Linked DNA regions of Homo sapiens: region 2 is linked to region 1. The links come from fine-mapping of genetic effects on gene expression. Tissue or cell type: testis. Region 1 holds a variant in brackets; the other region holds the start of a gene. All regions are shown on one strand. Distances are between the middles of the regions.

Region 1 (4,391 bases):
GTAATAGCTGTTGCTTGGATACATTAAAACTTTACCTTATCTATTACCCTAAGCTAATTCACTAAAAATTGAAATACTTTCGGCCCAATATCTGTTTCAGGAAAGATGAAGTAGATATACTTTTCCCTATTTCTCCCACCAAGCACAACTAAAAATCTGGATATTGTATATAAAACAAACATAAGGTGACTCTGAAAGGCAGAGAAAAAGAAGAGCACTACCTAGGGATCTGAAGACCTGTGGCTCAACACAGCGGTGCATTCCCTGGGTTTTCTTTTTGTCTCATTCTTCCTAGACTGGGTACTGGAAAAGCCGGCAAAGCAGAAACTCCAGGAGGTGCAGGCAAAAAAAGGACCTAAGAAAGTCCTGCTCTGTCTAATTCAAAGGGCCAGAAAAGGAAAGCCTAATAAGACAGAAAATGTTTAGACAACAAATGATCTATCTCAATCAAGACCACACATAACAGCGTGGCCCAAGTCTACCTCTTATAGCAAAGGCCAAGTGAAGAGCCTAGGGCTCTACCTTTATCAGACTGTAAGAAAGCGCTGCAACCCACCTGCTGGGGTGGCCTCAGAGAAGGCCTGACAGGGAGTCAGATGCTCACTACATCGTGGCAAAAATGAAGTCACTTATCCGAACTGTGATATCAGTAGAGCCCACTGACAAAGTAACGAAGGACTCCCCCGTCACACTGTCCGGCTGGTATCAGCAGAGGCATAGGTGGAGCATGAACTCCCACTACCCTCCAGAAATAATGAGGACTCCCTTGCCTGACCCCCCAGGCATCAGTGAAGGCCTATGGGAAAACCTGCTATTTCAATTCCTCACCAGCCTGGAGAAGCAACACATACCTCATCCTGCCAATATGGTGGCAGAGAAGGCCTTCTAAAATAAAAGATTTAGGCCAGGTGCAGTGGCTCACATCTGTAATCCCAGCACTTTGGGAGGCCGAGGCAGGCAGATCACTTGAGGTCAGGAGTTCAAGACCAGCCTGGCCAACATGGCAAAACCCCGTATCTACTAAAAATAAAAAAATTAGCTGAGTGTGGTAGCGCACGCCTGTAATTGCATCTACTCAGGAGGCTGAGGCAGAAGAACTGCCTGAACTCGGGAGGCGGAGGTTGCACTGAGCCAAGATTGTACCACTGCACTCCAGCCTGGGTGACAGACAAGACTCTGTCTCAAATAAATAAATAAATAATTTAAATAAGATCCAGTGTCTCATAATAACCAAAATGTCTACATTTCAACTGAAAATTATTTGTCATACCAAGAATGGGGAAGATCTCATCTTAAATGAGAAAAGACAATTTTAAAATGCCAATATCAAGGTGATGAAGAAGTATGAATTATCTGACAAAGATATGAAAGGCACCATCATAACAATATTTCAACAAGCTATATGAACATGCTTGAAACAAATGAAAAAAATAGAAAGTCTCAGCAAAGAAAGAGAAGATAGAAAAGAAAAACCAAATGGAAATTTTGGAACTAAAAATTATAAGTGAAATTAAAAACTCACTGAATGAAATTAGCAGAAGAATAGGACAGAAGAAAAAATAAATGAACTTGAAGATAGAACAACAGAATTGGCTCAATCTGAACAACGTAGAGAAAAAAATAACTGAAAAAATCAGTGAACGCAGCCTCAAGGAACTGTGAGATTGTAACAAAAGCGCTAATATCCACCACTCTGAAGCTAATAAAAGTGGCTGACCCTTATCTTCCAGACATGTCACTTTTTTTGTCAAACTGAAAATCAAGTAAAAATTTACTAGTTGGCCTCATATTCAATTTTTAATTGTTTTCGTTAGCAATAACATAGACCACTTCAAAATCGGCAGTCTTTTGTGATCAGCAAAGGGAGGCTCAGACAGATACATAACTTTGCCAGGACATGATTGTTCAGAGGCAAGACATCAGTTAAGAGCCCAGTGTTCCTAAACTTAGGTCACTGCTCTTTGCATTAAATACATTTCTTTTCCCACAGTCAACTAATACTAGTAAATCACTGTATTTTGGGTAACTGCATTAGAAGAATATCTTGAAAAAGTATTTAAAGAAATCCAGTGTGACCACTTTTACTAACATTCCTAGTAACCGTCAGTGTAAACATCTGGGGACCCTAATAGGAAGGATGCCATTAATTTGCATGCTCAGTAGCCCACTGCGTGAGGGTGGCTTTAGGGAACTCGTCTTGCTGACCAGAAACATAC[C/T]GAAGTAATTGTGCTCTTCCGTGTGAAACAGATGGTCTTGGTTTTTCAAGTTTTCCTGTGTGTTTGTCCTCTTGGATTTCTTTTGCTGAGCCTTTGCTTTAAAAAAATATACAAATATATTAGCTTTATTGCTTTATGCTAATTAATAAAAAATAAAAGATGGCAATGTAGATATATACTCCGTTATTTCCATGTGCTCAAATGATGCGTGTTCCTGACAAGAGTTCCAGCCTCATTCTGACACTCGGAGCTGTCTCTTTCACTCTTTCAGCACAGCCCTATGTTTTACATATTGAAGAAACTTTCTGTCCAGCACCTAGGAACAGGTCTTCACAGGCTGCCACTGTTGGTGTGAATCCTGCACCCGATGCCTTCTACTCTAGGTATGTATCGCCGCCAATTATAGTTTTCTATTTTCTTATCTTCCCCACCCAACGTTGCAACAGGGCCTGCACCTGGTTTTCCAGGTATTCGCAGGCTTTGCATAGTCCTTGGCATTCTGTGTTCTCCCTTGAATACCTGCTAAGGAATCTCATGCTTGAAAGAGTAAGAATATGGAAAAAGCAGTATTTTAAAACTCACTTGCCAGTTAAAAAAGTTGCCCATGCATTTTTCATTTTCACATTGACTCTTTCAAACAGAGCCACAAAAGTCAAACACCCCAAAATTGATGAGAATCAATCAGAGGAGCCAGTGTCTCCCCTCTCCACATGACTCCGTTCTTCAAACAGCTCTCTGGGTTTGCTTCCAAAACACAATGACCCTGTGATTCCCAGAATCCCTGCAGGAGAAGGTCCCTGTGTGATCAACCAGGAATCAGTTCTTAACCCAAAAATGGGACAACATAGAATATCACCTACAGGCTGCAACTTGTAAACTATTTGTTAAGCTTTAAAAAGTGGGCTGGGTGCAGTGGCTCACACCTGTAATCCCAGCACTTTGGGAGGCAGAAGTGGGCGGATTACTTGAGCTCAGGAGTTTGAGACTAGCCTGGCCAACATGGCAAAACGCCATCTCTACTAAAAATACAAAAATTAGCCAGCCGTGGTGTCACACACCTGTAATCCCAGCTACTCGGGAGGCTGAAGCAAGAGAATCGCTTGAACCTGGGAGGCAGAGGTTGCAGTGAGCCAAGTTTGTGCCACTGCAGCCTGGGTGACAGCGAGATTCTGTCTCAAAAAATAAATAAATAAATAAATAAATAAATAAATAAATAAATAAATAAATCTCTAGGTATTTCTGACTGCCCCAGCATTTACGTAGCATTGGCCCTCAATTTTTGCTTTGACGCCTGTTTATAGAAGGTCCTAAATGGCACTTGTTTTGTATATTTCATACATTCATCAAGCCAGTGTCCACTTTATATAGGTCCATTCATATTTTTGAGACTCTAGCCTTTTCATGGTATTAAAGTTCTGTTAGACATTATCTCTATGACAGTTTCGCTGATTAGCTCCATATAATTTTCATCATTCCACATTCTCCCAGTGCTTACTTAACCAGGTCTCTAGCATGATTTTTACATTTCCCCTGTGACTGCTCCAAGTGTTTTATCATCTTTTCTGCATATTACTTGTCCTGACTCACCAACTATATAAAAGTGAATTGTGTTCTTCTCTTCCCTTCACAGTGCTCCACACATAAACTCTATCAAATCTTTCTGCTTAGAATACAAAGAGGAGCAGAAAGGAATCAACCTGCGCCTTGGAGGGACATGTAAATATATATTCAATATTTTTCTATTATAAAATAAAGTTCTGGCCAGACGCAGTGACTCATGCCTGTAATCCCAGCATTTTGGGAGGCTGAGGTGGGCAGATCACTTGAGGTCAGGAGTTTGAGACCAGTCTGGCCAACATGGTATAACCCTGTCTCTACTAAAATTACAAAAAATAAAAAGTTAGCCAGGCGTGGTGGCATGTGCCTGTAATCCCAGCTACTCAGGAGGCTGAGGCAGGAGAATCACTTGAACTCAGGAGGCAGAAGTTGCAGTGAGCTGAGATGGCACCACTGCACTCCTGCCTGGGCAACAGAGCAAGACTCCATCTTAAATAAATAAATAAATAAATAAATAAATAAATAAATAAACAAACAAACAAAATAAAATAAAATAAAGTTCTGTGAAAAATTAGGTGAGTATGGTTACTAATGCTGCATCTGAAAACAAATGCAAAT
Region 2 (4,391 bases), 31 kb after region 1:
AATGCGAAATTAAATAGATTATGTAACGCTATGGTAGTCAACATACCATATAGTAACTTCTTGAAGGACCCTTAACACAGAATTAAGAAATGCAAAATCGTTATTTTCGTCAAGATAAATTTTGACAGAAATGTAACATTTGAATCTATTCAAATTGTATTTCCAAGTCTAGTGAACCGTAGCAATGCACAAGTTTTATTCAAGAAGGTTGGTGAGTTTAAGAAAACCTCAGGGTGGCCTATGACAATCCAGAAGGCAAGATCAATGTTATTAGAAAATAAATAAATAAATAAATGGTGTTCAAAAATGGTCGGCATAACTCAAAACTAAGATTTTAAAATCAAGACCAGTTGCTCCCCGGTTTCTGCCCATTGCCAAGCTCTTTTGGCTTAAGAACCATAGTTAAAATGAATCCATGTAAATACACAGCACACACCTTTGAAGTAAAGAAAGTAAGTTTAAAGATTAAAAGGAAAAAAGTTTTGGTTACGTGTTTACATAAACTGGGATGTTTACATAAACTGGGAATCACTTAGCACTCATTTTTCTCTTTATCCAATAGATACCACAGATTGTTTTTCTTTCTAAAGGTCAATTTCAAGCTTCCAGCATCATTAGTGAAATGAAACCCATTCGGTAATCACATCGTTAACACTTAAACAGAAGCACAACCGAATTCTTTAGGGGGCTACGGAAAGGCAGCCATCAGCTCTGAGATCTATGAAATGTGGTTGGTAACATCCACGGGGAGTCCGCGCATACACTGCTTTCTGAGAATGCAGAAGTTACTCAGTAAGACCGACAGAAAATCGAACTTTTAGACATGACATGAACAGGGCCCTAAGTAAAACCAAAGCTAAGCCTAGTGTGGGATGACGGCCCCCACCAGACTCGTTACAAGAAGGGGGCGTCAGAGCTGAGACCCTAAGTTTCCAGGAATGGATTCGGTAAGGGGACGAGGAGGGAAGGGACGGCGAAAACCACGCTGGGAGCGGGAGGCAGAGCTGCAAAGGGCGGAGGAGAAAGACGGGCTGGGGGAAGGAGAGGCAGGGAAGCGGCGGGAGAAGTGGAGAGCGGATCCGGGAGGTGATGGGGCCGAGGTAGTGCAGAGAGGGGCGCAGGGACTGAGGAGCAGACGGTCCCCAACCTAGGGCCGAGGCAGGGTCTCGCGGGGAGGAAGGAGTGAGATGGGGCTGGGAGAGAGAAGGGAAGGGGGCGGGTCTTGGTCCCCGGGAGGGAAAGGGGAGCAGGCGAGAGCGGCAGCGGCGGGGCCAGAGAGCCGCCTCTGTTTCCCGATCCACGCGGGCGGCTGCAGAACCCCTGCGGGGGTGAGCGTGGAGACCCCCAGCCGCACTCACCTGCAGCACCCTGCCCCCCGCAGTCGGCGCCCGCCTGTTGCTAGGACGCGGGTCAACACTGCGCGCCCTGCGGCCGCGCACGCCGGCGCCCTTGTGGGAGGCCTACAGGGCCCGTGCCCTCCCCCGGGCGCCGCCGCCGCCGCCTTCCGCTCCCAGCCTCACCCGGCCGCGACCGCAGCCCAGTCCGTTACCCTGGTCTCGGGACCTCCGCGCATCCAAGATTCCCGCGGACCCGTTGCACCGTATGCCCGCGCCAGAGACGCTCTGCGCCCGCGCTGGGTTCCACCCGCCCCGGCCACCTGCTGCTTTCCGCTCGGCCCCTCCCGGGAAACACTTTTATTCAACTTTGCATCTCCCTTTCTCAAACACTTTTATGCAACTCCCGAGTGTGCACCCTAACTCACTCCACGCGGTGGGAAAGGTTGACTTTGACAGAGGTCGTGAGCAGTTGCGGGGTCGGCGGCAAGTTAGCAGAAAACTTAAAATGGAGCAGAAAGGAAGCAGAAAATATTCCTTAGAAACCCCTTTTTACATTTTTCCATAGGCTTCCAGACAAGTGCGTTGTATGTACCTGAAATCTTCACTGAGTACCCCCAAATAGCATAGGGCTTCTCCTAGGATATTTGAGGCTTACATGTTTCTCTCCAAAAAAACAAATATGGTAGAATACTCTGATACTCACCGGGAAAGCAGAAAGCGCTCTTCAATAGGGCAGAGGATCGGAGTGAAATGAAAACATGTCCCCCATCTCTTTTTTTAAATGGCCTTTACCTTTGTCCATTAAGATGGTTTTGACCCCACCTCTAGACACCCTACCAGCAAGAGCCCCAACTGGAACACCAGTGAGGGATAAAGGAGTGGGAATATTGAGGTGGGGGGGGATGGGGAAGAATGCACTATCTTGGGGTGGGGGGACACGGTGTTTAAGGACCAATGCCGGAGCACTTAGGATGATGGGGTGTTTAGGAATTAAAACTGGATTCTTTTCCGGATGCCAAAGAGGCAAATGTGGAATGATGTTAGGATATCACCTGTCATAATATTATACGGATTCAGCTCAAAGCAGAACCTTTCTGCAAACACGTAGGGATATGAGGTATAGATATTTGTCCTTTGTTTTGGGTTTTTTGGAGGGTGGGGGACGAAGTCTGGCTCTATCACCCAGGCTGGAGTGCAGTGGCACGATCTCGGCTCACCGCAACCTCTGCCTCCCATCTCGGCTCACCGCAACCTCTGCCTCCCGGGTTCAAGAGATCCTCCCCCCTCAGCTTCCTGAGTAGCTGGGATTACAAGAATGCGCCGCCATGCCCGGCTAATTTTTGTACTTTTAGTAGAGACGAAGTTTCACCATGTTGGCCAGGTGGGTCTTGAACTCCTGACCTCAAGTGATCCACCCACCTCGGCCTCCCAAAGTGCTAGGATTACAGGCATGAGCCACCATGCCTGGCCTGTTTTGGGTTCTTTTCTTCTCTTTTTGAAAGTGCGAAAGTTGTTAGGAATGGAATAGTTTCACCTAAAGGAGATACTACCTGCAGAGAAGCTTAGACTTGCAACCAGTGAGAAAGGGGCTTATGCTAATAGGTATACAGAGAAGCCCTTTTAAAAATGGGTGGATTACAGTCTGAGACAACAGCATCACACCTGTGGCGGTAATGCAGGTCACAACCTGGTGAGGAGCAGAGGGCATCCTTCGGAAGGATCCTGGAGTAGTCCCAGTCCTGGAAGCAAGGAAGCTTCTGTGGGTACTTTAGTTCCTCTGCACATTTTAATCAGCTGTATGACATAAGGGAGCATTACTGGGTCCAATGTGGATGCCAGCCAGAGATCTTCCAAGTTCAGGACATTTCACCTTGGTTTGCAAAGCTGGAAAAAGCCAGAACCCACCAAGATCTGAGCAACTATGTCGTTGTTTGCCAAATTCATGCCAAGTTGCTTAATCTGATGCCAAAATGTGAATTTATTTTACCGGATATTTTCCAAGCAAAAATAACTTAATAATATTTAAATCTGAAGAAGTCCCAGTCGCCTCTTTCCAATTTTTCCTTGTCGTGATGAAACACTACCTGGGCCCAGTCACTCCCTGAAGGATTTATCATGACTTGTTTTTTTTTTTTCTTTTTTTTTTTTTTGAGACGAGGTCTCATTCTGTCACCCAGGCTGGAGTGCAGAGTGCAGTGACATAATCATAAGCATAGCTCACTGCAGCCTCTGATTCCTGGGCTCAAGTGATCCTCCAGCCATGGCCTCCGAAAGCACTGGGATTACAGCCATGAACCACTGTGCCTGGCCATAACTTGTCTTTGCCTTGTTGCCCATCTGCTACCCCTACAAGGTAAGCTTTATGAAAATAGGGAGCTTTTCTGCCTCCTTCAAGTCTGTACTCCTAAGATCTAGAAGGATGACTGGCACGTAGAAGGAGCTAAATTCATGAATCGCCTAGTCAAAGATGCCTTGCTTCCTGACACTCTTCACCAAGCACCAGAAAGGCAAGGCCCACATTTTCTTAGGGTTAATAGAACCAGCCTGAGGATTCTAAGTAGCCGTGATCTTGGAAAGAGCCTTCATCACTGAGGGCACACCCGGGGTTTGCTGTACCAGAGGCCTTTACCAGCCCTGCCCATGGCTAGAGTGCAAGCACATGGTGCAGCGCTGTCCACTGAAACTTTAGAGAAAATCTGCCACAGGCTCCTGGGAAAAACTTGATAGTTTTTGGTCCACCTCCGCAACATTACGTCATCTACAGCAGGGACCCCACCCACACGCCACACCTTCTGTCAGATCAGCAGTGGCATTAGGTTCTCATAGAAGCATGAACCCTATTGTGAACTGTGCATTCGAAGGATCTAGGTTACAAGCTCCTAATGGGAATCTAATGCCTGATGATCTGTCCCTGTCACTCATCCCCCCCAGATGAGACCGTCTAGTTGCAGGAAAACAAGCTCAGGGCTCCCACGGATTCCACGTTATGGTGAGCTGTATAACTATTTCATTATATATTACAATGTAATAATAGTAGAGATACAGTGCACGAGA

Alleles and levels. Positions count from the first base shown, and alleles are read on the strand shown. Sizes are in standard deviations (SD) of each study's normalised expression.
In carriers of allele T in region 1, the expression in testis of the gene that starts at base 1,635 in region 2 tends to be lower than with C alone (small effect, 0.22 SD a copy in GTEx).

The links.
Region 2: it holds the start of ODAD2, and the variant in region 1 is fine-mapped to the expression of ODAD2 in testis (GTEx, PIP above 0.99).

Annotation. Positions count from the first base shown.
Region 1 is chr10:27,966,707-27,971,097 of GRCh38, forward strand. ODAD2 (outer dynein arm docking complex subunit 2) reads right to left here. Exons shown (of 20, transcript NM_018076.5): 9 at 2,217-2,312. Among named protein-coding and RNA genes, the nearest start is that of ODAD2, 30 kb to the right of the region's middle. The variant C/T (reference allele first, on the strand shown) is at 2,217.
Region 2 is chr10:27,997,445-28,001,835 of GRCh38, forward strand. ODAD2 (outer dynein arm docking complex subunit 2) reads right to left here and starts at 1,635. Exons shown (of 20, transcript NM_018076.5): 1 at 1,550-1,635.